Linked DNA regions of Homo sapiens: region 2 is linked to region 1. The links come from fine-mapping of genetic effects on gene expression. A gene starts in region 1. The other region holds a variant in brackets. All regions are shown on one strand. Distances are between the middles of the regions. Region 1 holds the start of VAMP4 (vesicle associated membrane protein 4). Region 2 holds the start of MYOC (myocilin).

Region 1 (16,665 bases):
TAGGTCAGGGCTGGGTTAGCAATGTCTGCATTCCTCTATTGGACAGCCCATCTCCTACAACTATGGTTCTTGCCTTTTTCTATTGACCCTTCTTGTGACTGTTTATGCCTATGAATAGTCGTGGCTTCCTCCTATTGCTATTCCTGAGGTATAGCAGCATCCCTATTTGTTTCCATTTGTGATCTTAATTTATTGTTAAACAACAATTTAATATTACAGATCACCTTAGACAATTTTATTTGCTAAGGTATTCATGTACCTGTGTATATGTATAAATTATATATATACTCCATTGTTCATTTGACTCTGTAATTTACTTCAGTTTTCAATACAGTCATGTGTCACTTGACAACAGGCATATGTCTTGTGAAATGGATTGTTAGGCGATTTAGTCCTCATGTAAACATCAGAGTGTACGCACGCAAGCCTAGATGGTATAGCCTACTACACATCTAGGCTATATGGTATAGCCTATTGCTCCTAGGCTACAAGCCTGTCTAGCATGTTACTGTATTGAATACTGTAGGCAATTGTAAATAACAAGTATTTGTTTAGATACACATAGAAAAGGCACAATAAAAATATGGTATAAAAGGTTTAAAGATGATACACTTGTATATGGCACTTCATGAATGAAGTTTGCAGGACTGGAAGTTGCTCTGGCAAGTCAGTGAGTGAGTGGTGAGTGAACCTGAAGACCTAGGACATTACTGTACACCACTGTATACTTGATAAACACTGTATACTTAGGCTACACTAAATATATTTTTTAAAACTTTTTCTCCAATAAATTAACCTTAGCTTACTATAATTTTTCACTCTATAAACTTTTAAACTTTTTGACTCATAATAACACTTAGCTTAAAACACAAATACATTGTATAGCTGTACAAAAATATTTTCTATTTTCACTCTATAAGCTTTTACTTTTTTTTTTTTTTTTTTTTTTTTTTGAGGCAGAGTCTTGCTCTGCCACCAGGCTAGAGGGCAGCAGCACAATCAGGGCCCACTGCAGACTCGACCTCCCAGGATCAAGCAATCCTCCTACCTCAGCCTCCTGAGTAGCTGGAACTACAGGTGTGTGCCACCATGCCTGGCTACTTTTTAAATTTTTTGCAGAGATGGGGTCTCACTGTGTTCCCCAGGCTAGTCTCAAACTCCTGGGCTCAAGCAATCCACCTGCCTCGGCCTCCCAAAGTGCTGTGATTACAGGCATGAGCCACCACACCTGGACCATTTTTTACTATTTTAAAAATTTTTTATTGTATATATTTTTACTTTCTAAACTTTTTTGTTAAAAACTAATGCACAGTCACACCCATTAGTCTAGGTCTACACAGGGTCAGGATCACCAATATTGCTGTTTTCCTCCACATCTTGTCCCACTGGAAGGTCTTCAGGAACAATAACACACACTATTTTAACACACACTAATTTAACAACGTTTTCTTCTGGAATACTTCCCAAAGGACCTGCCTGAGGCTGTTTGACAGTAAACTTTTTGTATAAGTAGAAGGAATATACTCTAAAATAATGATATATAGTATAATAAATAAACTGGTAAGAGTCATTTATGATCAAGTATCACAGACTGTACATAATTGTATATGCTACACTTCTGTAAGATTGGCAGTGCAGGTTTGTTCACACCAACATCACCACAAACTCATGAGTAATCCATTGCACAACAGCAACAACATCGTTAGGTGGAATTTTTCAGATCAATTATAATGTTATATATATGCAGTCCTTCGTTGACTGAAACGTCCTTCTGTGGCACATGGCTGTAGTTGCCTAGTCTTGTTTTTCTGTGCAAGATTGTAAGTTTTTAAGAGGACAGTAACACTGTTTGCCATTTTTGTATCCCCAGACTTTAACAGAATACCTGTCACACATATCTGATGGACAAATTGATTCACTTTGATATAGCACCCAAGATTAACAAACTATAGATCATTTCTATAGTTTGTTATAGAACTATAACACAGTTCTATGTTATAGTTTGTTGTACCCTGAAAGTACAGTCTTCACTCAAGATAAATATTACCATCTTCAGCAAGAAATTACAGTTGTATTTTACCTTAAGCAGACTAAAGCCTCTTGAATCAAGTGCGATCATAACAAGACATTATGCTTGATGGATTCTCCGTCTAAAGATGGAGTCTCCCTCTGTCGCCCAGGTGCAGTGTCACGATTTTGGCTTACTGCAACCTCTACCTCTCAGGTTGAAGCGATTCTCCTGCCTCAGCCTCCCGAGTAGCTGGGACTACAGGTGTGTGCCACCACGCCGGGCTAATTTTTTCATATTTTTAGTAGAGATGGAGTTTCACTGTGTTAGCCAGGCTGGTCTCAAACTCCTGACCTCAGGCAATCCGCCCGCCTCGGCCTCCCAAAGTGCTGGGATTACAGGCACGAGCCACCGCGCCCAGCCGCCTAATCTCTATTATAAGGGAAAAGCATGTGATTCATTTAGAGAAAATATTTATCTCAATTTAAGCTTATTGCTCTGCGATATTTTCTAGTGTTCTCAGTTGTACCATTCTCTAACCTTGGACAAATCACACGTCATCTCAGAACCTTGAGGTCTAAATGATAAAATGAGGAAAATGACACTTGATATCAGAGAGGATTTGTGCAGAAACATATGCTAATCATTAAGCATAGTTCTTAAGAAAACAGGCATGAAACCAAGAAAATAAATGGTAACCATTTTTAACTTTCAGAGTAGTAAAATAAATTTGTAACACAATTAGAGCATATTATTATGCAGGTTCTTCTAATGTTGCCATCTTTGTGGGAGGTAATTTCTCCAAGATAAAATTCTTGCAACATGTCACTACCTCAATAAACAAGAACAGTTAGAAGAGAAACAAAGCACCTCCCTGAGACCATCTTATAATGTCACATCTAAAGTTTCATGAGGAAGGCATCAGGGCATTTCCCATATTATTATATATATTAAAAATAATTAAACTATAGTTGAACTTATCTTTAAAAACTAAATTCCTCTTGCTTTGTTACTCATTACTATTTTCTCTGTAGACTATACTCACATTGCAAAGGACATAACTGAGACGGCTGGCAAACTTTGATATGGATGCTTTGATAGAAAATAATATTGTATCAATGTTAAATTTTCTGAATTTGACAACTGAATTACAGTTATGAAGACAATGTTCTTGTTCTTAGGAGATATCTAATGAAGTATTTAGGGGTAAAGAGGCATGATAGCTATAACTAATTTTCAAATAATGCATGCCGAGGGGAGATATAAATTTAAAGAGAAGTAATAAAGCAAACTTAGTGAAATGTTAACAAACCACGTAAACTCTCTGGCACTCTGTTTCTTCATCTACCTGGAGACAAAAAGAGGGCTGAACTATTTTGTTTTTATTCACACTGTCATGAAATCCATTTAGGAGTTGAGGTCAGCATTAGAAAAGCGTTATTAATGAATCTGGATAGAGGATTTAAAAGCATTCAAAATCAAAACTAAAATAAACTAATATCATATTTATATAACACCAAGGCACTCTAAGCATGAAAAGCTTATGGTTAACTACATGATATCTGTATACTTCTTCTCCAAACTAATTGAGTTACATGCTTACAAGAGTCAATTTGCATTTGTACTCCAAAGTATTTATGCCTATTATACTTATAGAATATATTTAAATATGTAAACTAATGAAATACAAATAGAAAGTTATTTTCTATAAAAACTAAATTGATAAACATGAACAACAAACAAAAATTACTATAGAACTAGGCACAGGTAAGACAAACCTGTAAAACTTTGGAGAAAAAATTGTACAAAAATCTAGACTGACTGGGCATTCAAATTGCTTGAAAGGTGTCTTTAACTTCTTATTCCACTTTGAAGAAAATGAAACTGTAAACTGTAAACAATGCAACTTGTAACAAAGACAAAGCAGGTGTTCCAACCAGCAAATTCATGCTCAGATAAAAGGTCTTGGGCCTACTACCAAGACTGGTGAGTGAACATATACATTTGAGTCAAAATAAAATGACTAAAGTATATATTTGCCATTTTTAAATATGTACCACTGTAACTGACTTTTTAAATTAACTGGTCCAGTGGTCCCAATTTTAGGGGAAGAGAGTGCCTCTACCATTGTTTTAATTGAAAAACTGATATACATGGTAAAGATATTCCAATAGTACAAAACACTACACATCAAGAAAGTTTCCCTTCTGTATTAGTCTTCTAGGGCTGCTATAATGAAATACCATGGACTAGGTGGCTTAACTACAGAAATTTATTTTCTCACAGTCCTAGAGGCTAAAAGTCCAGGATCAAGGAGTCATCAGGGTTGGCTTATGGTGTGGCCTCTCTTTCTGGACTGCAAATGGCCATCTTCTGTGTTCTCATATGGCCTCTTCTCTGTGCCCATGCACTCAGACACTAGCCCTACAGGATTAGGGTTTTGCCTTTTTGATTTCATTTAACCTTAATTATTGTCCTAAAGGCCCTATCTCCAAATCTAGTCACACTGGAAGTTAAGACTTCAACATATGAATTTTGAGGGGACATAATTCAGTCCATAACACTTTCCATGCCAGATTCACAGTCCTCCTGGTGTGTGTGTGTGTGTGTGTGTGTGTGTGTGTGTGATGCTCAAATGGAAGTAGAGTCTACACACTATTTTGCACCTTACTTTTCTCACCTTATAGCATCATAGAGGTATTCCATGTCAGCACATATAGATCTATCTAGTTCATTTTAATGGCTGCATACTATTCTATTGAATGGCTAGACTATGACTCATTTCAGCAATTTCCTATTGCTGAACATTTAGAGTTTTTTTTTTCACTCTGTTACAAAAATCCTGTAACAGATATTTTTATAGAATACTTTTATATACAACCTGTATACCCATGGGATAAATTTTAGAAGTAAAATTATTAGATCAAAAAGAACTTCATATAAAATTTTGATACATATAATTACCATGAAATTTTTAAAAATGCACCAATTTTTATACTCTTACTGTTTAAGAATGCTTGTTCCTCCCACGCTGCTCCCATACCACACATACACACACCCAATATTGTAGTATCAAATTTTTTTTATTTTTGCTATTGAGCTAACACAAAAGATCAAACTGTCAAATCAGGCTCAAATCAGAGATTTTACTCAGTATCAAGCTTTACTAATAGTTTCAAGGATACCAGTAATCCCCAGGTCCTTTCTTCTTGCTTTGGATGCATCCTGGCCCAGGACAGTAGATGTGGTTTCTAAATCAAGTGTACAGTCACCCCACTTACACAGAAGGAGCCAAATCAGTTACAAAACACTTCCATTTTATGCTACGTTACATAACTTCCGCGGTATTTTCCAGTTAATCATACCCCTGAAATCCGCATTGATTCTTTTTTGTTTTGTGAGAGGGAGTCTCATTCTGTTGACCAGGATGGAGGGCGGTGGCGCGATCTCTGCTCACTGCAACCTCCGCATCTCCAGTGCAAGCTATTCTTCTGCCTCAGCCTCCTGAGTAGCTGGTGTTACAAGTGTACACCACCACACTCAGCTAATTTTTGTAGTTTTGGTAGAGACGGGGTTTTGCCATGTTGGCCAGGCTGGTAACTCCTGACCTCAAGTGATCCACCTGCCTCAGCCTCCCAAAGTGCTGGAATTACCACATCGATTCTTAATGTGTTTACCATAAACAATCCCAGCCCTGGGACATCCTGTTAGAGGAATTCCGTAAATATGGACTCTCTTGCTAGCAAATGCCATTAGTTTGTTTGCCAGGAGGTCTGTAATTAGTATATACTTTATATTTTATAAAAATCACATGCTTTTTTGCTTGCTTTAACCTTGCTTTCCTGAGAGTATTTCCCTACGAAGGGAGAGACTGGATTGCAGATCTTCTGCTCAACTCCTTCTTTCTCAGTCACTGATAGATGAAAAATGGTATTTCCTTGTTCACTTTTACATTTTAAGTAATGTTGAACATTTAGCAACAAAATATTGAAAGCTAGAAGGGAGATGAATCAAGATGCAATTGCCTTAGCAGACTTGAAAAGTAGGAATCCCAAGCAGGCCATGAAGCAACCTGATACACACAGTGAAACCCTGTATAAGGCTCAGGAATTGGAAACACCACGTAAAGCTGAAGAGAGCATGATGTGAGCTATAAATACAGGCGGAATGGTATAAAGTCTGTTTAAGAATGAATCAGATGCTGAGATTCCCTTTGCTATCCCATCAAAAACCCAGAGATTTAGTCCTGAAAGACAGCAAAACGCTGATTCTCTAGCTAGGAGGACAGCAGGCCCTCTTAAGGATGAAGGTGTCATGTTGAAAAAGGGGAAAAGAAAATTAGAGGACTAACATCTGAATAACTGAAGCTCACTAAAAAGAAAATGGAGGAAATAAGTAACTCAAGTTGCTTGGAGTTCTGACTCTAAGCTCAGTGCTATTATAATCTTTTAGGCTTACTGGTATATTTGATTCATGTTAACTGTAAAATGACATTTTCTAAGTTTCACAAATATTGGGGTTAGTCAAAGGGACTTTGTTCAGGTGATTAAGGGTGGGGCTTGCATTACCCCTCTCCTAAGCGATCATTCCAAAATGACTGGCAGGACTAAAGAATTATGTTTAAAAAACAAAAAAACCCAAAGAATGGATTATCTGTAAAAGCTATGCAATGACGTGCCTGTTAGAGCTCACTGACCACACCTTAAGTTGTCTAAGAGATGAGGCTATAACTAGCTAAACTCTAATTGGCTAAGGCACCAAAGCCAGAAAATAGCCCATAACATGCAAATATACAGACATAAAATCAACTGTAAGTGCTGGGCACAGCTGCTCATGCCTGTAATCCCAGCTACTTGGGAGGCAGAGGCAGGAAGATCACTTTAGCTCAGGAGTTCAGAGCTGCTGTGCGCTATGATTGTGTCACTGCACTCCAGCCTGGGGGAAGAAGTGAGACTTCATCTCAAAAAAAAAAAAAAGATCAGCTGTAGAAGAAAAAATAATGTCAGGGTTACCTGTGGAGTCTGGGGGTAGACCCACTATCACACCTAGACAGGGATACAAACCATGAGAGGCTTCTCTTCTAAGTGGGCCGTTTCAGTCCAAGTTGCTGACTTGGACAGCAACTTGGACTGAATAAACACAGGCAACTGAGTTTAGCATTAAGCTTTCAGAACCTTCAACTGACAACTCAACGGCTGTTTCTAAATCTCAGAACATTTAAATCAGAATCTAGGTAGCACGTGGGCACCTACGTAGTTTTAAAAGCTTTCCAAGTGATTCAACTCCAAGTGAATCAGAGTGGAGCATCGTTGCCTTAGTCATGGCATCTTTCAAATTCGTTAGTACATTTTTACATAAAAATAAACATCAAACAAAAGAAGAACAACTTTTTGGTAAGAGGGTGTCTATTCTTTCCTTTCCTTTAGTGTCCGCAGATCTTTCCTCCTGCTGTTTTCTTGTCTACTCTTGTTCTTGAACACCCCCTCTTATTTTTATGTCTTTAGAAAGTGCCTGGCACAGTATTTCAGACAGTTAAAATACTGTATCAACAAAGGACCCATAGATACTGTATTAATTTTAAAAGATGTGTAGTGAATATGATTCAATGAGTAAAATAATCCAGCTGGGGCGTGGGAGGAACGGATAATAAAACAAATAAGAGAACGGAAAAACAAAATTAGGAATTGTTTCTGGTAGACAGCTACTGCGGGCGTGGAGATCTAAACATGATACCAAATTGGGCGGAGGGGGAGGGAGTGAGGAAGGAATGGGCAGAGTGGCGGAATGGCCTGGCGAGGGCGATTTCCTGAAGGCTTTCAGGTTACAACTAAGGGATACCGGGAAAAGAACACCGAGCCCTCGTCCCGTATCTATCTAAACTAGCCGTGTTAACTTTAAGTCAATCTCCTCTCTGAACCAGATATTCCTCCTATCTAAAGGGAGGAGCCTGGCCTTAACATCTCTTTCCAAGTCTAGCTCTAATTCTGTAAACAGGGGATCAAACAGATCTCCTTTCTTCAGAAAAGGCCCCAGACGAACCCGAAGCAGGTCCTCGAGCTGCGAGCCACTCTCCACTTGCCACTCAACGTAGTCAGCCAGAGGGACGGATGTGCCACCAAGCACCACCTTCTTTCTAACGCCTCATCACCCCAGCCACGCACTCCGGCGCGGCGCCCAGTCCCGAGCGGTTCTCGGAAGTTTCCCACTCCTCCCCTAATCGCCCTCCACGCACGCCGGATCACGACCGGAACGTGGACAACCAGTGGTTGTTCCTCCCCTAAAGCACAGCATAAATTTGGAGAGATGCATCTAAACTGCGTGTGGGTTCGGGCTCTTTTAGGTGAATAGGGCTCGGCGGATCGACTTCCTCGATTATCTCCGTGCCCTGGACCCGCCCCCTCCGCCTGGCGCCAGGCCGCCGAGCGCCGATCGGCTCGATGAGCGGAGGCGCTGCTGCGGCGCTGCGGCCGACGCCGGGTCCGCACCAACTGTCTCCCCCTCCCAGCTTCTTACCTCGGCTTCCTACTCCTTCCCCCGCCCGCCCAGCACCGCCAGCCCGGGAGAGCTGCCGGGAGTTCCCCGGGAGCCTCAGGTACTGGCGCTGGCCTGTTCGCAGCGGGAGGGGCTGGTGTGAGGAGGAAGGAAACGAAGAAGACGCCCCTGCCTTGCCGCCCCCCGACGTCCTAGTCGGGCTGGTCGGCGGGCCTCGGGGATCTAGGAAGGGACCCCGGAGTGGGAAAAGGTTGGGGCCGGGGGTGCCGTGAGGAAGGAAGACGAGGACAGGGGTATGCGGACGAGGAGCAGTTGAGGGAGAGAAGAATTGGAATTGAGGGGTACTCTGGGGTGATGGGAAGAGAACAGTACCATGGATGGGGAAGGTTTGTTAAGAGTGGGATGTAGTGAGGAATTCCAGGGGGTACAATGGGGCAGGAAGGGCCAGCGTTAGGAGCAGATATATCGTGGGACGTGGCCTGGTGTGACAGATTGGGTGTGGGGGGTGAACGGAGCTGCCTGAAATTGTGTATTTAAAGGGCCCGGGGGAAAGAGCGCCAACCCTGCTGTGTTTATAATGACCGGAAGGTGGGGGTGAATCGTTACACTTGACAGGTTTTGCAAATAATATCTCCGGTCTGTGTCCATCCAAGTCACTTTATTTCTGTGAAACTGCATCAAGCAAGAAGGCTGATGACAGACAAGGAAGACGAATCAGAAAGAGAATGGAGGCTGGGAAAAGGAGAGCCTTTGCCCAGATTCAAAGCTATTGACTAGATAACGTACTACTTACAAAAACGCACACATAGACATTTAAGTATATGCTGATGTATAAGAAGCATACGGTGATGTGACTCATTTGAGTGAATTGTATAGTGGTGGTCTATCCTCAATGTGGAAGTACATGATGGCTCTCTTATTTACATGTATACCTAGTCACAAACAGCTGAATTCACATGTCTTTTTTTGTAGGAGAAATCTTAGGCAGACTATATCCTAGTCTACTTTCTGAGCATGATTTATTTCTACTAGTTGTTTGATACACATATCAGTTACTAATAATCAGTTGCAAATAACATCAAAGTTCATCAAGGTAGCTAATTAATCTGCCTACTGCTTTGCTGATGGGCTATTTGTTGCACATGGTTTCTTGGGATTAAGAGACCTGAATATGGTGTTTGCTCATCCTTAAGATTGTAGTTTTACTGTATGTCTTATAAAGGCATTATATAAGTCTGCCCGTTGTTTGCTTTGGGATGTTGAGGCAGCCTCATTGCAGGGGTTAAAATCTAAATACAGATAATAGTTAAAAGCACAAGTTCTTCAGTAATTTGCCTTGTCATCTGTTTTTCCATGCATTCTGTTACATTTCTGCATGAATGAAGTATTCTGACATCAAAGTATGAGGAATAAAAGGGCCAGATGTATGTGACAGAAATATTGTGGAACCAAGAACTCAAGAGCTGTTACTCAGGCAGCAAGAATTTGGTTTTTGTTACAAGTGAATAATTTCTGATTTGGAAGCATTTCTTATCAAAGAAAAGTGTGTCCTTTGGTTTTGACAAGCAGCTGACTTAAAACATTACTTTTATTTGGTTCGTGAAGCCAGATCCTGGGATTATTCTTTTTTAAGTGTATATCATTAACAAACAAACTGATGTCTAACTATACCTAATTTAAAGGTCTAAGTGTTTCTTCTTATGGAAAAGGAAGCAGGACTATTGGGTTGTTAGCAGGAAGTGAGTCTTTCTAGAACAGAATTCTGTAAACCTGATGGGCAACTAATTGAACAAATGATTAAAACTGATAATGCACAGCCATTGATTAATTTAGGCCTGTATCTCTGCTGTTTCAATGAATGTAGTGACTAACGTTATCGTTACTAAACTTTAGTTTTCTCCTAGTTTCTTGGTGCCTACTTTAAAGAAGCATCATAAAGAGTAAAAGAAAATGCATGTGTATCACTGAGCACCGTGCCTAGCACATAGTAAAACATTCAGTATTTCTGAGCTATCCTGAATTGATGGGTATTCATCTACCATCTAGTCAAAAATACTGAAAATTCATTATTTGCATAGAAGAACTTTTTCGCAAAAAAAAATTTTAGTATGTTGCATACACAAGCATTTTCCTGGAAAGTCACAATGCATATTAGCATATAACAGGATGTGAGTCATTCTGTAGCAAAGAAAACTAGCTTTGTTTAATCCAGTTGTTTTGATAGAAAAAAATTGAGTTTCTCCTATTCTCTCTCAACACAGACCCCCAAAAGATTTCTCCTCACAAGCAAGGAGGAAATTCTGCAGCAGATTCTCCAGCTGGGTGTCCTCTAATTCAATTCTGATACTGTATACCTAGAGATAGCATCAGATCCTGCAGGTTGAGGGCTTAATCCTACAAGATTCCCCCCACTTCAGGTGCCAATCACAAGTTCCAGGTTGTTTTACCTGTGTTTCCAACTGACTGGCTATAAATCAGAGTTCCCACAATCCCTTCCTTGTGTTCAGTTTATTTGCTAGAGTGGCTTACAGAATTAAGAGAAACACTTTGTTTACTGGTTTATTATAAAGGATAGAGATCAACAGCCAGATGGAAGAGGTGCATAGGGCAAGGGGTACAGAGCTTCTGTGCCCTCTCCAGGTGTGCCACCGTCCAGGAACTCTCTACTTGTTCAGCTTTTGGGAAGCTCTCTGAACCCTGTCCTTTTTGGGTTTTATGGAGTCTTCCTTAGTAGGCATGATTGATTACATCATTGGCTATTAGAAATCAGTTCAACCTTGAGCCCTCCTCCCCTTCCAGGAAGCTAGGGGGTGGGGCTGTAAAGTCCCAGTCTTCTAATCATGCCTAGGTTTTTCTGTGACCAGCCTCCATCTGGAATCTATCTGGGGGCTAAGCTACCAGTCATCTTATTAGCATACACAAGACACATCACTGCAGCGATTCCAAGGATATGTCAGGAAATGGGGATTAAGACCAAATGAGTATATTTTGTAAATCACGATATCACACCAGTACTTACCAAACTTACCCCTTTTCATGGAGTACCAATGGGACATTATAGTTTGCAGAATATTTTTGCATGTATTATCCAATTTGACCGTCCCAACTCTGCAGAAGCCTGAAAATCAGTATTTTACACCTGAGGAAACTGAATCATTGCTTAAGCAACCAACTAAAAGTGAGAGAAATAGGCATGTTCTCCTGTCTTCTGACTCCAACTTTAAATTGTAAAGCATTTAATGTCTCAGTGAGACGTCCTCCCTCTACTCTCTGCTCTTTCATTTTATAAAAATCTTAAATCACTCATATCCTACACATGTTCTCTTAGGGCAATTACATCCATTTTCTCATAATTTTAACTATTTCTTAGGTGTTGAGGTCTAGCATGGAGGCCCCAGTCACTGGAGTGGAACAAGTGAGAGGGCAGGAATTGAAGTCAGAAAAATGAGGGAGTCCCTGTCATACAGGGTTTCATGTACACTGTTTTAAGTACATTAGCTTATGCCCCAAAGTCTCAAATCTGATGAAATTTATTTTCTCTTTAAGGTGGTGACTATCCTGTTGAGAAGCAAAAGATACTTTGCAAGTAAAAAATATGCCTCCCAAGTTTAAGCGCCACCTCAATGATGATGATGTCACAGGTTCTGTGAAAAGTGAAAGGGTAAGTTCGGAATCTTAAGCTTTAAAAACAAAAGATTCAAAATATGTTTTCATTCCCTTTGTGAATAATAGAAGAAAAACCATCCGGGCGTGGTTGCTCATGCCTGCAATCGCCGCACTTGGGACGCTGAAGCAGAATAGCTTGAGCCCAGAAGTTCAAGACTGTCTTGGACAACCCAGGGAGACCCTGTCTCTATAAATAATTTTTAAAAAATTAATGGGGCATGGTAGCACATGCCTATGGTTCCAGCTATTCAAGAGGCTAAGGCAGGAGGATCACCTGAGCCTGGGAGATGAAGGCTGTGGTGAACTGTGATCTGCACTCCAGCCTGAGCAACAGAGCAAGACCCTGTCTCAAAAATTAATTAACTAATAATAATAACAACAGAAAAATCAAAAGCTTATGACTATATTCTAATCCTAATTGTTTTCTTCATAGCAAATGTATTTAAAAACATGTTACTTAGATTGGTGACAACTGAATTCTACTTCCATTATTGATCAAATCATTATTCTCATAGCTTCTTTCTAGTTTTTGAAAGGGAGTTTTATACAAATACACAATATCTTATTCAGAACTTTGAATGTATTTGGAATTTTTCAGATTTTAGAAAGTTAAGAACATATTATGTAACAGCATTTTTGGGGCCTGGACCAGTGCCTCCAAAAATATTAATATTTCTCAGTGAAGTCTATATTTAGTTATATCTAACTAACTATGTAAATAAAGTGTGTAAATAAACTAGCTAACATCAGTTCAGGTCAAATTTTCCTCCAAAACTTTTTGATTTTCAGAAGCTTTTAGATTTTGGAATTGCAAATAAAGGTCCCCAGACCTGTAATTATCTTATGTTCCAGAGTATCTTTTATATAATGCTTCAATTTCTAGTTTATTCCAGAACATTCTATGCAAATATATATAAATCTAGAAATTATGCCGCATTTAAAAGACAACATTTTATATGAATGTTGTAGGCAGATTACTTTTAGAATAAGTACTCAATACATATTTATTGGGGGAAATAATTCACGTTCTTATTTTTTTAATGCACCATTCTGAAGCCCTCCTTCCTTTCCTTCTTGTCTTGATTCATTCAACAAATATGTATTGACCACCTCCTATGTGCTAGGCACTGGGCTAAAAATTGGAAGACATAGTCTGTGCCCTTGCAAAGCTTTTAGTCTGCTTTGTTTTACATGCTCTTTTTGGACAACCTCAGAACTTCATATTATCCACTCTGTCCACCATCTTATGACTTTTAGTCATAAGTTTCTTTTAGTACAACACAGGAAACATTTTCTTCCCCTTATTCTAACCCTTTGTACAGCTTTTGCGGTTTTGTGTGTTTCTGATGGTTTGTTTTTATTTTTTGAGACCAGGGTCTCGCTCTGTCATTGAGGCTGAAGTGCAGTGGTGCAATCACAGCTCACTGCAGCCTCCACCTTTTGGGCCCAAGCTATCCTCCCACCCCAGCCTCCTGAGTAGCAAAGACTACAGGTGCATGATATCATGCCCAGCTAGTTTTTGTTTTTCTCGTAAAGATGGGGTTTTGCCGTGTTGCCCAGGCTGGTCTCAAATTCCTGAGCTCAAGTAATCCACCTGCCTTGGCCTCCCAAAGTGCTGGGATTACAGACATTTGACACTGCACTCGGCCTGTTTTGTTTTGTTTTGTTTTGTTTTGTTTTGTTTTGTTTTGTTTTTTAATGGGGAAATAGAATCCACCAATAGATTAATTGCTAGCAAGCTTTTACTAATAAACTTTAAGGAGTCACCAATGATTTCCATGTTGCCAAATCCAGTTACTCCTTCTTTGCCATAATTTCAACTGCTTACTAGCATTTGGTGCAGTTTCAACCATTTTGGTCACCTATCTTTTCCTCCATGCCATGGTGAAACTCTTAGTGTCTGCTTGAGCTAGTTCCCCATGCAAGGAATTGAGAAATGCCTTGAAATATACCAAGTCTGGGTGAACCCGGAAGGCTCTGGCCGAGAGAAGGCAGAGGATGATCAGGGATTGAGAAATCACTCAGGGATAATCCAGGGTCTCTTTCTTTAATGTAATATCTTTCAAGATAAACCTCCAAGAAAAAGTGATTCAGAAAATTTGATATACCTGTGCTGGAATTCCATACACTGAAGATTTACTATCAAAAGCATGTCTTGGCCAGGCGTGGTGGCTCGCGCCTGTAATCCCAGCACTTTGGGAGGCCGAGGCGGGCAGATCACTTGAGGTCAGGAATTCAAGACCAGTCTGGCCAACATAGTGAAACCCCATCTCTAGCAGAAGTACAAAAATTAGCCAGGTGCGGTGGTGCACACCTGTAATCCCAGCTACCTGGGAGGCTGAGGCAGGAGAATTGCTTGAATCTGGGAGGCAGAGGTTGCAGTGAGCCGAGATTGTGCCATTGCACTCCAGCTTGGGTGACAGAGTGAAATTCCATCTCAGAAAGAAAAAAAAAGCATGTCTTTACAAAGCAGAAGGTTTGGCGAAATACTAAACCCATTCAGAGAATAAATGTCAATTTGTTAAAGTAAATGATACCAATTGTGAACCTATAAAGGAACCCAGTGTAAAACAACACAGACTTGATATGCATCCAGTAAAAGCTGACTGAAAGCTCCTGATGAATATTCAGTGATCAGCGTGCACAAAGCATGCTGAAATATTTTTTAAATCATCGGTTAGAAGAATCTGAGCCTCTTTCCTATTGCCCCAAGGAAATCTTTAGTCACTTACCCAGAGATGCTTGCAAAGCATTAATATCCTGGAAGATGATCAATAAATGCTGACAGTTGATTGACTGATATCTGAGATATGTCAGGTAAATACCTCAGTCCTGGACAGAGAGCCCCTAAGTCACATCTGCCTTTGTGTAAGATGAAGACTGAAGTATGGAAATGTATGTAGTAAAATCACCTCTCGGAACTTGTTTGTAATTCATACAATCTATGTCAATTTTGAAAAATGTATGTAAAGCAGAGAAGGTTGTAGCCAAATTCAATGTATAGTATGCAAGAGTATATTATTTAATAATTTTTAATTGATGCAAATCCCATTAATTTTATAGTTTTATTTTTACATGATTTTAAACTGAAACTATTTATATTTCCTAAGTTCCCCTGTGTTTCTTTCTCACAATCACTGCTGAACGTAAATTTGTTGTTCACTTAATGGAATCACTGTTAAGGACACAGTCACTTGAATATGATTGCTTTTTAAAAATCAAGTCCAGGCGTGATATACTAGGATCACAGTTTCATGGCATGTTGGTCATAATCCTGAGAAAATAGTGACAAAATTATTATTTGTAGATATTAAATACCAGTTTAATAATATGTGTGGAAATCAGATTAAATAGTACATAAAGCCCACCCTAATAACAAGGGCAGGAAAAATTACTTCAAGAAAAACAATAGTAAACCTTAAATTAAAAATAATACAAATAAATAAGCTTTATGAATACATTTTTAAATTTAAAATGTATTGTCTCAATAAATTCCACTGCTGAGACTGTAATTGTATCACTTTCTCCTTATATTCTTCATTGATTATTAGTATATTAGACACCAGAACTGAATAAAATTGACTGTTTCAAGAGAACTCCTTTTTGATGTTTATTATATTATGAAGTTTGATAACTGATTGGTTAGAATAATATATAAATTACTTTTAAAATCTTTTAAAAGTTTTGTTCCTCTTTCCTATTATACTTTTTTGGTAATAGCTTTATTGAGATAAAAGTCACGTACCATACAATTCACCCACTTAAAGTGTACAATTCAGTGAGTTTTATTATATTCACAGAGTTGTGCAACAATCACCACAATCAATTTTAGGATATTTTCATTAGCCCAAAAAGAAATGCTGTGCCCTTTTGCAGTCATCTCCCATTTTCTTTATCCCCTCAGCCTCTAAGCAACTGCACTCCTATAGATTTGTCTATTCTGGACGTTTTCTGTAAATGGAATCATATAACATATAGCCTTTTGTGACTGGCTTCTTTGACTTAGCATAATGTTTTTAAGATTCCTCAACGTTATAGTGCATATCAGTGCTTCATTTTTTTTTTTTTTTTTTTTTGAGACGGAGTCTCCCTCTGTTGCCCAGGCTGGAGTCCAATGGTGCGATCTCGGCTCACTGCAACCTCCACCTCCTGGGTTCAAGTGATTTTCGTGCCTCAGCCTCCCAAGTAGCTGGGATTACAGGCGTACACCACCACGCCCAGCTAATTTTTGTATTTTTAGTAGAGATGGGGTTCCACCATGTTGGCCAGGCTAGTCTCGAACTCCTGACCTCAGGTGATTCACCCACCTCGGCCTCCCAAAGTGCTGGGAGATCTTCATTCCTTTTTATTGCTAATAATATTCCCTTATATTGATATAACACATTTGGTTTGCCCATTTATCAGTTCATAGATGTTTGGGTTTTTTTCTACTTTTGGCTATTTTAAATACTACTGCTATGAGCATTAGCATACCAGTTTTTGTTTGAGCATGTTTTTAT
Region 2 (14,473 bases), 96 kb after region 1:
GAGATATAGGAACTATTATTGGGGTATGGGTGCATAAATTGGGATGTTCTTTTTAAAAAGAAACTCCAAACAGACTTCTGGAAGGTTATTTTCTAAGAATCTTGCTGGCAGCGTGAAGGCAACCCCCCTGTGCACAGCCCCACCCAGCCTCACGTGGCCACCTCTGTCTTCCCCCATGAAGGGCTGGCTCCCCAGTATATATAAACCTCTCTGGAGCTCGGGCATGAGCCAGCAAGGCCACCCATCCAGGCACCTCTCAGCACAGCAGAGCTTTCCAGAGGAAGCCTCACCAAGCCTCTGCAATGAGGTTCTTCTGTGCACGTTGCTGCAGCTTTGGGCCTGAGATGCCAGCTGTCCAGCTGCTGCTTCTGGCCTGCCTGGTGTGGGATGTGGGGGCCAGGACAGCTCAGCTCAGGAAGGCCAATGACCAGAGTGGCCGATGCCAGTATACCTTCAGTGTGGCCAGTCCCAATGAATCCAGCTGCCCAGAGCAGAGCCAGGCCATGTCAGTCATCCATAACTTACAGAGAGACAGCAGCACCCAACGCTTAGACCTGGAGGCCACCAAAGCTCGACTCAGCTCCCTGGAGAGCCTCCTCCACCAATTGACCTTGGACCAGGCTGCCAGGCCCCAGGAGACCCAGGAGGGGCTGCAGAGGGAGCTGGGCACCCTGAGGCGGGAGCGGGACCAGCTGGAAACCCAAACCAGAGAGTTGGAGACTGCCTACAGCAACCTCCTCCGAGACAAGTCAGTTCTGGAGGAAGAGAAGAAGCGACTAAGGCAAGAAAATGAGAATCTGGCCAGGAGGTTGGAAAGCAGCAGCCAGGAGGTAGCAAGGCTGAGAAGGGGCCAGTGTCCCCAGACCCGAGACACTGCTCGGGCTGTGCCACCAGGCTCCAGAGAAGGTAAGAATGCAGAGTGGGGGGACTCTGAGTTCAGCAGGTGATATGGCTCGTAGTGACCTGCTACAGGCGCTCCAGGCCTCCCTGCCTGCCCTTTCTCCTAGAGACTGCACAGCTAGCACAAGACAGATGAATTAAGGAAAGCACAGCGATCACCTTCAAGTATTACTAGTAATTTAGCTCCTGAGAGCTTCATTTAGATTAGTGGTTCAGAGTTCTTGTGCCCCTCCATGTCAGTTTTCACAGTCCATAGCAAAAGGAGAAATAAAAGGACCGGGTGAGATGTGTCTGCATATGAGCAGTAGAAAGTTGTCAATTGTCCCTTTTGAAAAACTATCCTTTTTTGAACCTTTGCTCAGATTGTTATTTGTACCTTTTGATGTTAAAATGACCTTTATTTATGAAATTACAATAGATTTGGGAAATGATAATAAGTGGTAAGTTTTTGTTTATTTTTAAATGTTCTTCCCTGGCAAAATAAAGAGATGGCACCTCTCTGTCAGTTTTCTTAATATGTTGTTCTGAAAGTTTTCTTACTCAGTCCAATCTGAGAACCTCTGCTTTTAAGTCATCAGACAAATTCTTGAGATGGCTTTTTCTGAGAGGCTCTTCTGTTCATCCTGGTCCCTTCTTGCCTAAAGGTGAGTCTGTGTGTGTGTGGGGGGGGTGCGGGGGTGAGGTGTTGGGGGAGGTCTTCTTATTAGCTGGGAAGATGGTATTTGTGTCACTTTTTGTGAAAGTGGGCTCCCAAATATTCCCTGTTGAGGAAGTGTTCTAATCATGAGGAAATAAGCAAGCAAATCCAGTTGTTGGACAATTAGTTTGGACTGGTCAAAGATGTCAGTGCCAAGGAAGAAAGAAAAAAGGGGTGGGGAAGGGCTTGTTCTATATTAAAGAGACTAAAGAAATGTGTTAACCAAATGTAGTGCATGAGTCTTGATTGGTGTCTTCATCCAAGGGGGAAAAAGGCTATGAGGAACAGGTTTGGGATAACTGAGGCAATTTGACTGCTCATTATTATGTTACTGTATTAATGTTCAGTTTCTTGGTGAGATAATGATACTGTGGTTGCGAAGGATAAAATCTTTGTTCTATGGAGATACATGCTTAAGTACCCAGGGTGAGGCGTCAGGATGTCTGCAATTTGCTCTCAAATGGTTGAAGAAAGACTGCAAATATATAGATAATGAGAGAAAGAAAGGTAAAACAACTGTGGCAAAATATTAATAACTGGTGAATTACAAACTGGTGAATCTAAGTATATGGGGAGCTTATTGTACTATTCTTTCAGTTTTTCTATAGGCTTGAAAAGCTTTAAAATTATGAGAAAATATTTCCTAAAAAGAGCCTTCTACGTGAAAGGCAAGCTCTTCATAGCTATGGGGTTAGAAAACCTAAGAGCCAGAGCCTGGGGATGACCTTGGGCAAGTTATTGAACCCTCTGCATCTTCATTTCTTGTCCATAACATAACAAAGAAAATTCCTGCTGTGAATAATTTTTGTGGGGTTCACATGAAATACCTATAAGATGTAAAGGATTTTTAAAAAATGTTTAGATTGTTAGAATTAGAAGAGATCCAATTCTGAATTTTACAACCAAGGAAAGTGAAGTCCTAAGATGCTAAGGGGCCAAGGTTGCCCAGCTGGTCAGTGGTAGAGCTTGAGACTTGAATCTGTGGAGACAATTGAAAGAATCATCATTACCAGAAGTGTGATGAGGCATTACTTATTTCAGACTGTTGAATGAAGTTACATTCTCAATAAAAACTCCTGCATGTGTGTATGTGGGTGTGGGTGGTGTGTGTGTGTGTGTACAAAAATAGTGGCAATGTTTTGCCTTTTTTTTTCTTTTGTGGTCATTTAACAAGTCTTTGGGGATTTATTAGATGTGTTTCCTAATTTTATATTTTTTCTTGATCTTTCCAGCTACTCCACTTTTGAAATAAGGGCAACATCCCATTATATTGAACACCAAACATGGAAGTTCTTTTCTAGTAGTAGATGTTTTTCATGAGCAGGAAATTACATTAGTACAAGAATGTGGAACTGGAAAGGGACCTAATGAGCATCCGGTACCGCTGGCTGATTTTTGCAGATATGGAAACTGAGGCCCAGAGAGGTTATTCAGCTTGTCCATGGCCATCTACCAGTTAGTGGCAAAGCTCGAATTCTGGCCTCTTCCTCTGAAGTTCAGTGACTTT[C/T]TTTCTTTTTTTTTGAGACAGAGTTTCACTCTTGTTGCCCAGGCTAGAGTGTAATGGCACGATCTTGGCTCACTGAAACCTCTGCCTCCCGGGTTCAAGCAATTCTCCTACCTCAGCCTCCTGAGTAGCTGGGATTATAGGCATGTGCCACCATGCCCGGCTAATTTTGTATTTTTAGTAGAGACAGGGTTTCACCATGTTGGTCAGGCTAGTCTCGAACTCCTGACCTCAGGTGATCTGCCGACCTCGGCCTTCCAAAGCACTGGGATTACAGGTGTGAGCCCTCCCTGTACATGGCCATGAGGTTCATTGACTTTCAAGACCTTCAGCTGACCTCTGGTTTATAGACCCTAAAGGTAAAAGACAGAAAGGTACAGGAATGCTTGGAACAAAAGATCTGTTTCAAGGCCAGATCTAGGGAAAAGGGGGCATTCTGGAGGCTGGAATATAAGTCTAGGTATGCTTTTTTGCAGGAGTGGCAAGAACTAGGTGTGAAGGTTTGGGTAGAGAAGCTTAGTGAGGCTGAGTGGACAAAGGTAAGGCCTGAGAAGGCAGCCTTTCTGTATTCCACCTGCAACTCAAATTGTTACCACCACTTTCTTGATCATGTATTAATAGTTGTTATGTAGAAAAAAATTCCTTATAATCATAGAAATCACTTGTTTATACATACACATAATATGACATATTTTACTACATAACTATTACTACAAAGTTATATATAACTTTTTCTTCTCTGGGCTTATATAAATTTTCATATATATACATATATAAATTTTATGTATATATAATAGTTTTTGAAAAGTAGAAAAAAAATACAATTAGCCAAGTGTGGTGGCTCACACCTGTAACCTTAGCACTTTGGGAGGCCGAGGTGGACAGATCACTTGAGGTCAGGAGTTTAAGACCAGCCTGGCCACTGTGGTGAAAACTTGTCTCTACTAAAAATACAAAAATTAGCCGGGTGTGGTGGCGGGCACCTGTAATCCAGTTACTCCAGAGGCTGAGGCAGGAGAATCGCTTGAACCTGGGAGGCAGACGTTGCAGTGAGCCAAGATCACGCTACTGCACTCCAGCCTGGGTGACAGAGCGAGACTCCATCTCAAAAAAATATATATATTACATATAATACATATAAATATATATAATTATATATATAAATTTATTATATATATAATAAAATACATATATAATTTACTAGAAGATAAATTAGAGTTGGTTATTACTGTCACAAGAGAAGGACTGCTTTGTTTGTTATTTAGCCCCTGCTTTGGACTGGTCTCCTGTTGAACAGAGCCTGGAAGAGGGCTTGTGTGCAGTTGGTTTATATGGACCATGATCCTAGAGAAGAGAAGTTGAGACAGGGGAAAGTGAGACAGGGAAGGCAGGAAAGCCACAAAATGGGGGCCTTCTCCAGCTAGTCACCACAGTGGGCAATGGAGGCTCAATCCCATCAAGCCCTTCAGAGGGGCTGTGTAGACTGCAACAGAAGAGGGGAGGTTTACGCATGGATCTGATACCCTCTTGGCCAAGGGCTATCCCATGGAGTATATTGCGCTTCCCTGATACTCAGATGTGGGGACGAGGTTTGTTCTTGCAGACTGATTTTTTTTTTTTTTTTAAGATGGAGTCTTTCTCTGTCCCCCAGGCTGGAGTGCGGTGGCACGATCTTGGCTCACTGCAACCTCCGCCTCCTGGGTTCAAGCAATTCTCCTGCCTCAGCCTCCCGAGTAGCTGGGATTACAGGTGCACACTACCACGCCCAGCTAACTTTTGTATTTTTTTTTTTTTCCAGTACAGACAGGGTTTCACCATGTTGGCCAGGCTGGTCTTGAACTCCTGACCTCAAGTATCCACCCATCTTGACCTCCCAAAGTGCTGGGATTACAGGCATGAGCCACGGCGCCTGGCCTGTTCTTGTAGACTTTCTATGCAGAAAGTCAGAGAAGCTGGGCCACGGTGGCTGAGGCGAGGTCCCCGCAGGTGATAACTGCAAGAGGCAGGTTGCCTCAGCAATGACTGCAAAAAAGTGGGCAGGATGTGAGGGGAGGGTGAGGGGAGAAACCTGAGGTGTTCAACACAAGTGCTGCAGATTCCCTTTCCTCACCTAGAATAGGATGGGGATGAGAATCCCTCATGGGAGTCATCATGCAAATTAGCAGTCACACAGGGAAGCACCCAGTGCAGCGCTGAGCAGTGGCCACCCAGTGAATAAAATATAACTAGAAAGGCTTATTTTACTTGAGTTCCACTATTGTTTTTGTTTTTTGTTTTGTTTTGTTTTTTGAAGATGGAGTCTCGCTCTATCACCAGGCTGGAGTGCAGTGGCGTGGTCTTGGCTCACTGCAACCTCCACCTCCTGGATTCAAGCAATTCTCCTGCCTCAGCCTCCCAAGTAGCTGGGATTACAGGCACACGCCACCATGCCCGGCTAATTTTTGTATTTTTAGTGGAGATGGGGTTTCACCATGTTGGCCAGGCTGGTCTTGAACTCCCGACCTCGTGATCCACCCGCCTCAGCCTCCCAAAGTGCTGGGATTACAGGCATGAGCCACTGCACCTGGCCAGGGTTCCACTATTGTTTTAAAGCATCATTCAATAATCAATATGTCAACATGTGCATAACATTTTAATAACATGCGTTGATTCTAGAGACAGTACAAGTTAGAGCAGTACTCAGGACAATAGTCTATTAGCTAGTCTTCACTTTCCTAAGATGTTTCTGACAACCTGTAGATAATTAGGCATAGCTTGTTTTACTTCATTCCTTTCATTTATGTAATATGGACTGAACTTTCCAGTGATAGAAAATATCTATGAAAATTATTACAATGCCTATGTCTACAGGCAAACGAGTTAATAAATTCAGTTTCCGGGTTGAGGTCTCTAAAATGCCAAGTCTATAAAGAAGCGACGGCAGAGAACACAGAACATTTCCAGAATTTTGTAATAGACATGAACCTTTAAACCACAGAAGGACTGAATTTAACATTTTAAAAAACCTAGAAAAAAAACAGCTGGGCGTGGTGGCTCACGCCTGTAATCCCAGCACTTTGGGAGGCTGAGGCAGGCGGATCACGAGGTCAGGAGTTCGTGACCAGCCTGGCCAATATGGTAAAACCCTGTCTCTACTAAAAATACAAAAATTAGCCAGGCGTGGTGGCAGGCACCTGTAGTCCCAGCTACTCAGGAGGCTGAGGCAGAAGAATCACTTGAACCCAGGAGGCAGAGGTTGCAATGAGCTGAGATCATGCCACTGTACTCCAGCCTGGGTGACAGAGCGAGACCCTGTCTCAAAAAAAAAAAAACAAAAAAAAAAACCTTAAAAAATAAAAGCCCCAAAAATGCTAACTATCTGACACAGTACAGCCCTTAATATTTTCACAGTCTCTTTTTGGTTTTCCTCCACATTCACAATGAAATGTTAGTGATTTTAAAACATTCCAGAGAAATTTTAGTGTTGACACATCTTTATTGAGGGCCATTTCATTTATAGTTACTTATGTAATCATCCAAACAATTCAGCTCAGCATACTGGGGCTCAGAGAGGTGGAGTCATTTACCCAAAGTCACACAGCTGGGACATGGCAGAGCTGAACTAGGAGCTATGACTTCCGGCTTAGGTCCAGGCCCCTTTACGAGATTGTTTCCCTGCCTTTGGGTTTTGCATCCTCTATTCTGGGCTTCCACCCGCATGCCAGATGGCTCTATTCCTGGAGTCTGACCATTGCCAGATGCTCCTGGCTGACATGACCTAGAAGAAGCCAGCAGGCTCATAACTTAACCATCGCCCCTGCCAAATGGGAACTGGCCTTGCCGTCATCCTGGAAGCCATTCCCTGACATTTTGTTTTATTGCAGTTCATGTTTATTCCAGCTAATGCACATAAGGAGTGGTTCCTGCAAGGCACAATCTGAAGGGCTCCTTGCTCAGAGCCGTAAGGGCCATGGTGGGATTCAGCAGGGAACTTGGCACCAGCCAGGCACTTTTGCTGCCTCTTCTTTGCCAGTGAGGGTAGAAGAACTGATAAGAGGATTGAGTGCACAGCCCAGGAGCTGAGAGTTTACAAGGCAACCCACTGGGACCTGAGCTCAGCCCCAGGAGTGGGTCACCCCACAAAGTGCTGAGCAGCATCTTTGAGACTCTTCTGAAGCCTCCAGTAGCCATCTGGGTCCAGTCGGGAGATAGAAATCACACAGTGGGTTAAGCTGGGGAAGTTTACTTTAAAGAATTACTAACCGTGATGAAAGAGCAACTATAGATAGACGTGAACTCCATAGGCACCTAGGGCTGAGGGAGGGTGCCGGACAAGCTTGGAAGGGGAAGGTGAGGTTCAGCACATCAGCTTGCAGAGAAGGTGGCTAAGGTGTGCAGGCCTCAGCTGGTCTGCAGCTGCAATAGGCCGCCTCCCAGTGCAGGTGAGGAGGGCAACCTGCAACGTGTGGCAAGGGCATGGTGGGAGTCAGGGCAGGCACAGGCAGGAGGCCTCCAGAGCACTGAGGTCCGTGTGCAGGGACTCTGGGTTCCTTGTTGGGAGGGCTGTGGAAAGGTTATGGCCAGGCTGTGGCTGTGAGGTCACAGAAGAACTTCGCTCTGGGTCCGTGGCTGGGGTAGGACTCCAACAAATGTCCTCACAGTCATACCACCTATGGACGCAGGACAGGAAAACTGCAGACCTTTTTCCTCCCACGATGTCCCTCCAGCGCCCTCTACTGAGATAGTTCAACATCGCGCTCACTTCAAAGCTCTTGTTCTTCAGACAGCATACATGGGAGGGTGCATTCAGCTCTGAGAGGCAATGCGTTTATAACTGACACACCTCCTCAGCACAGGATGGAAGAGTTCGCAGCTGCCATGGCCTCGGAAGACATGGGTTCAAGTCCCAGCGATACCACTTAGCTGTGTGACCTTGGGCATGTTACTTAACCTCTCTGAACCTCGGTTTCCTCATTTGCAAAAGGGGATATTAATGTTCACTTTCAGGACCATTATTTGAAAGTAGTGAGTAGCAAGCACCCAGCACAGTACTGGCTCATAAGAGACACTTAATAAGTAGTAGCGATAGTTCAACTTTATCAGGCGCTATCTGCAGTCCTAAAGCCTTTCTCTATTTCTCTGAAACTTTGAAGGCACCAGATCACATTTAAAAATTACATAAAAATTACTTGAAATGGGCAAAGAGCTATAAATGCCGACAAACCATCTTGTTTCACAAAAAAAAAAAAAAAAAAAGCTGTTTTTTAGAGTTGCAAAGCCAGTACATACTTTAGCTATCCACAAGGAAGTCATCTGTGAAAATGCCTGACTTTTTTGGGTTTCACTTTCTTCCTTCCCTCTATAGCAAAAGGGGCATTTCTTTCTTAATTTTCTCCCCACTGACTGGTAGGTAGGTACCCCTACTTTTCTTAGTATACATCTTTTCTCGGTAAGTTGTTAAATTAAATAACCAGCATAAAATACATCATTTTGTATGTGTAAAGGGGCCAGATGCAGGGGAGGGATGGCTCGCCTGAATTTAATATTTTTTTAAAAACCTAAAAAAAAAAGCCCTAAAAATGTTAACGATCTGTCACAATATAGCCCTTAATATTTTCATAATCTCTTTTTGGTTTTCTTCCACATTCAGAATGAAATGTTAGTGATTTTGAAACATTCCAGAGAAATTTTAGTATTGACACATTTATTAAGGGACCCTCCCATGGCAACTGTGGATGGCATAGCTGAAGTGTAGGGACAAGGTTGGGGCAGTCCTCCAGACTTTGTGTACAGATGGCATGCAGTATTTCTCTCTCCTCACATTGCCTGAAACCAACTCCTTTTTTTTTTTTTTTTTTTTTTTTTGAGACAGAGTCTCTCTGTCACCCAGGCTGGAGTCCAATGGCACAATCTCAGCTCACTGCAACCTTTGCCTCCCAGGTTCAAACGATTCTCCTGACTTAGCCTCCCTAGTTGCTGAGATTACAGGCATGTGCCACTATGCCCGGCTAATTTTTGTATTTTTAGTAGAGACAGGGTTTCAGCATGTTGGTCAGGCTGGTCTCGAACTCCTGACCTCATGATCCACCCACCTCAGCCTCCCAAAGTGCTGGAATTACAGGCGTGAGCCACCATGCCCAGCAACTCTTATATTCTGAGAGTTGAGACAATGAAAGAAAAGAAATTTGAGTTGTCCTGAGGCAGAGTCTGCAGTGATCCAAGAAGAGGTACAGATGAAAGGAAACCAGCTCAATTCAAGGAACTTGCTTAATGCCCTGATTTTGAAAAATTGTCCTGGCAAGACTTTGCCACATCGAATGAGCCTCTGCACATTGCAGGAGGCTGGCAGGGCCAGGGAGCGGTGGGCTGCTCCTAACAGCCTGGGTGTGTGTTCTGGGCCTAAGAGAGAAGGCATGGCAATCGGCGAGGCAGCATCAGAGAGGAAGGTTACAGATGGTTCTGCCACCTGTGTACAGGAAGGCGGTCACTCTCTCTTACCTCTCCCTGGCAGCACAGAAGAACAGGGAACCTCGGGCACCCTGTCCCTCTCCCCCATAGGCAGCACCAAGTCCCTGCCGGAGGTGTGTGTTGCCTGCACAGGGGGAGAAGGGAAGCAGCTGGTACTGGTCTCAGGTCGATCTAAGGAAACTCCATTTGACCTAGTGAATCAGTCCCTGCCCTGGATACCCTCCTAGGCCAATGCAACCTTTAGAATGAAGAACAAAGGGGTTTCCTCACCCCTGCACAACCTCAGATAGGGAGAAGGAGACGCAGGGAATGAAATAAAAGTTTCCAGGACTCTCCAGGAGCCATTCAGATTGTCCAAGAAACTGGTTTCCGCAGCAGCCTGGAATAAACCCATTTTCCTTCTCGGGTATGAGGACTTTGCCAGATTATGATTTCCTTAAGGGCATGGACTGATTGTGTCTTTTTTTTTTTTTTTTTAAACATAGACTAGCCTATTAGACAAACTTGTGTCTTAGACACCTTTTTTTCTTGAGCACCTAGCACAGCCTTGCACTCAATAGGTGCTCCAATGATGTGACTAAAAGGATGGATAAATAGCTCTGTGGATTTGAGGCTAGGAATAATGAAGGCCTGCCATGTCCCGGGGGGTACTCCCAATTGCCCCTGGAGTTTGGAATGCACATTGAGGATGTCCTCAGTTACATATACATTTTGGCTTATGAGTCTTTCTTTTTTTAATTTTTTTTTTTTTTAAGACAGGGTCTCACTCTGTCACCCAGACTGGAGTGCAGTGGCATGATCATGGCTCACTGCAGCCTTGCCCTCTTGGACTCAAGAGTCATCTTCCTGCCTCAGCCTCCCGAGTAGCTGAGACCACAGACTGCACCACCACACCCAGCTAACTCTTTAATTTTTTGTAAAGATGGGGTCTCGCTATGTTGCCCAGCCTGGTCCCAAACTCTTGGCCTCATGCAATCCTGCCACCTCGGCCTCCCAAAGTGCTGGGTTTACAGGCATGAGCCACTGCGCCTGGCCAGCTTATGGGTTTTAACTACTTACATGGTGCACTCTAGACTGAGGGATATCCCAGGGATGGAGGACCCACCCACCTCCAGGGCATTAACACTTTTAGGGAGGCTAACAACTGCAGCCACACAGAGGCAGGGGTGGAGAGGAGAGAAGGGTAGCTGGGATCAGGGGCAGGCAGCTGCAGCAGCTACTGAGCTGGCTCACTGTGGGCAGCATGGCTGTCTGGCCCAGCCTGCACCTGAGAGCTAGCTGAATGTTTTCTTCACCTCCTTCCAGGGAGAAATTTTTTCCAGTACTATAATTTGTTGAAGCTGAACCCCAGCAACTCAAACAAGGTACCCTGACTCTGGAGATGTGAAAATGTAAAATAATGTGTGGCTTTGATGAAATGTGGTAGAACCAGAGGATTAAGACTTCTGTGGTGATCCTCTCTGCCTGAAATCTAAATTTAGGAGAGCTGAGCAAACAAATGATCAAAGGCAGAACATGTCTTCCCGACCCTCTCGGCTGTGTAGGCGCTCCGGCCTCAGGGGATGCACTGACTTTCCTCCCACTGTCCTGAACACCTGAGAATCCTGAGCGGGGAACAAGTTGCTCAAAGGGCAGAGAAGTGACTCAGAGGTTCAGCAAGAGAAAAGCCCAGTGTATTAAGCATGTCTTTTTATTCTGATGCTTTGCTGTCTGGGCCTTGCAAACGTGAGAGGGACTGCCCCTCCCAGGGGTAGCCAGTTCCTACGGTTAGCAAAGGACTCACCTGGGAGGACAGCTTTCATATGCAAACCAACCAATCCAGAGCCCACACCCTGTGACCACCTCCATCTGGCTCAAACTCAAGGCCACTGTCCCCCTGACCTAATCACCCAGGGCCTGGTACCAGACAATTAGAGATAACTCCTGTGACCCCAGATCCTGCTGAAATTATTCAAACTCCCCAATCCTAAACCTGCTTACCCTGCCTCCCCTTTCTTTCCTTCCCATGGAAAGAATAAAGGCGCTTTCCCACATTTTCCCCTGGTGCCCTCTTCTGGAGCAACCCTGGTGCTTCCCCAGGTGGCCTCCTGGGCTTAGTGTGCCCCCTTCCTCTTGGGCTCTGTGAGTACAACAACTTGTAAAGATAATTTTTTTTTAGAGCAGTTTTATGTTCACAGCCAAATTGAGAGAAAAGTACAAACAGTTCCCAGATACTACTGGCCCCCACACATGCACAGCCTCCCCGATTATCATCATCTCCCGCCACAGCAGTTGTTACAACTGATGAACCTGCATCAGCACGCACAACACCCAAGGTCCACGGTTTAAATTAGGGTTCATTTTTGGTGTTGCGCCTTCTATGGGTTTAGACAAATGCATAGTGACATGTGTCCACCATTATAGTATCATACACAGTATTCATTGCCCTAAAAATCGTCTGTGCCTCACCTAGTCATCCCTTCCTCACCCAACAACTGCTGATCTTTTTACTGTCTCCATAATTTTGCTTTAACTTGCTTTTCAGTGACAATTGCCTCCTGGGATGTTGGCCTTGCCACACCTGAATAATCATCAAACCTGCATTTTATTTGTTTTTATGTGTATGTGATGGGTTTTTTGGGAGGTTGGAGGGGAGGACAGGGTCTCACTCTACGCCAGGGCTGGAGTGCAGAGGTACGATCACTGCTCACCACAGCCTTGACCTCCCGGTCTCAAGTGATCCTCCCACCTCAGCCTCCCAAGTAGCTGGGACTGCAGGTACACATCACCACCCAGGCTAACTTTTTGTAGTTTTTGTAGAGATGGGATTTCACCATGTTGCCCAGGTTTGTCTTGAACTCCTGGGCTCCAGTGATCTGTCTACCTTGGCTTCCCAAAGTGCTGGGATTACAGGTATGAGCCACTGGGCCTGGCCAAACTGCATTTTAAAATAGCCAAGCCTGTTCCTTGTGACTATTGCCTCATCCTTGTATTCAAGACTGCTGTAAGATCATAATCCTAAGCAAGAGTAGAGACATGTAGCACACCATGATCACTTACTGTCTAACCAATGCTGCCCACCCGCTTCCCTTCTGTATGGCTCACCACCCCCACCCCAAACTCCTATAGGAACTCTGCACACACTCCCTCTCCATTATGCAAAACTGGTCTCAGAAAGGAATCAGACAGAATATTTCTACTGAAAGTATAAAGCTTAATATGTTACTTCTTACAAGAATATTTGCATATAACAAGGGAAAAAACCTTAAGTCATGCAGTAAACTTTTATCTTTTTTTTTTTTTTAACAGGAGTCTCCCTATGTTGCCCAAGCTGGTCTTGAACACCTGGGCTCAAGTACTCCTCCTGTCTTGGCCTCCCAAAGTGCTGGGATTACAGACATGAGCCACACTTCTTTTTTTTTTTTTTTTTTTTTTTTTTTCTTGAGACAGAGTCTTGCTCTGTTGCCCAGACTGGAGTACAGTTGCACAATCCCGGCTCCCTGCAACCTTTGCCTCCTGGGTTCAAGTGATCCTCAACCTCCTGAGTATCTGGAACTACAGGCATGTGCCACCACACCCTGCTAATTCTTGTATTTCTAGTAAAGATGGAATTTCACCACGCTGGCCAGGCTAGTCTTGAACTCCTGGCCTTAAGTGATCCGCCTGCCTCGGCCTCCCAAAGTGCTGGGATTTCAGTGTGAGCCACTGTGCCCGGTCTCTTTTTTTTTTTTTTTGAGACCTTGAGACCGGGCCTTGCTCTGTTACCCAAGCTGGAGTGCAGTGGCAGGATCATAGCTCACTGCAGCCTTGAACTTCTGGGCTCAAGCAATCCTCCCACATCAGCCTCCCAAGTACCTAGGACTGCAGATGCTTACCACCATGCCCAGCTAATTTTTCATGAATTTTTAATTATTGAAATTCAGACATCTAAGAAGATGCTGAGGACTGTCTCCATATTCCTGAAATTACGACTCACCTATTCACAAACCAGCCCTTCTAGTGGAATTAAAATATTATTTGATTTTGAATACCCTACTCTAAGGTAGGCACATTGCCCTGCAATTTATTATTTATGAGGTTTTTAATTATGGAATTGTTCAAATATTCACAAAAGTAGAGAGACTACAATGAACTCCAATGTAGCCATCACTCAGGCCCAACTGTTATCAGCACAGTCCAATCATGTTTTATCTTCCCTTCTCTGACCCCCAACCCATCCCCAGTCCTTATCTAAAATCAAATCTCAAACACCATATCTTTGGGAGCCTATTTATTTAGTTAGTTAGTTTTCAGACAGAGTTTCTTTCTTGTTGCCCAAGCTGGAGTACAATAGTGTAGTCTCGGCTCACAGCAATCTCCCCCTCCTTGGTTCAAGCAATTCTCCTGCCTCAGTCTCCCAAGAAGCTGGGATTATAGGCACCTGCCACCACATCCAGCTAATTCTTTTGTGTTTTTAGCAAAGACAGGGTTTCACCATGTTGGCCAGGCTGGTCTCGAACTCCTGACCTCAGGTGATCCGCCTGCCTCGGCCTCCCAAAGTGCTGGGATTACAGGCATGAGCCACCACGCCTGGCCGGCAGCCTATTTAAATGTCATCCTCAACATAGTCAATCCTTGGGCCATTTTTTCTTACAGTAAAATTTTGTCTCTTTCTTTTAATGCAGTTTCTACGTGGAATTTGGACACTTTGGCCTTCCAGGAACTGAAGTCCGAGCTAACTGAAGTTCCTGCTTCCCGAATTTTGAAGGAGAGCCCATCTGGCTATCTCAGGAGTGGAGAGGGAGACACCGGTATGAAGTTAAGTTTCTTCCCTTTTGTGCCCACGTGGTCTTTATTCATGTCTAGTGCTGTGTTCAGAGAATCAGTATAGGGTAAATGCCCACCCAAGGGGGAAATTAACTTCCCTGGGAGCAGAGGGAGGGGAGGAGAAGAGGAACAGAACTCTC

Evidence for each region.
Region 2: its variant is fine-mapped to the expression of VAMP4 in lung (TOPMed, PIP 0.91).

The regions. Positions count from the first base shown.
Region 1 is chr1:171,733,845-171,750,509 of GRCh38, reverse strand. VAMP4 (vesicle associated membrane protein 4) reads left to right here and starts at 8,445. Exons shown (of 8, transcript NM_003762.5): 1 at 8,445-8,600; 2 at 12,047-12,161. The coding sequence starts at 12,096.
Region 2 is chr1:171,638,441-171,652,913 of GRCh38, reverse strand. MYOC (myocilin) reads left to right here and starts at 226. Exons shown (of 3, transcript NM_000261.2): 1 at 226-906; 2 at 14,192-14,317. The coding sequence starts at 303. RefSeq lists enhancers at 7,045-7,551, 7,552-8,058. The variant C/T (reference allele first, on the strand shown) is at 3,105.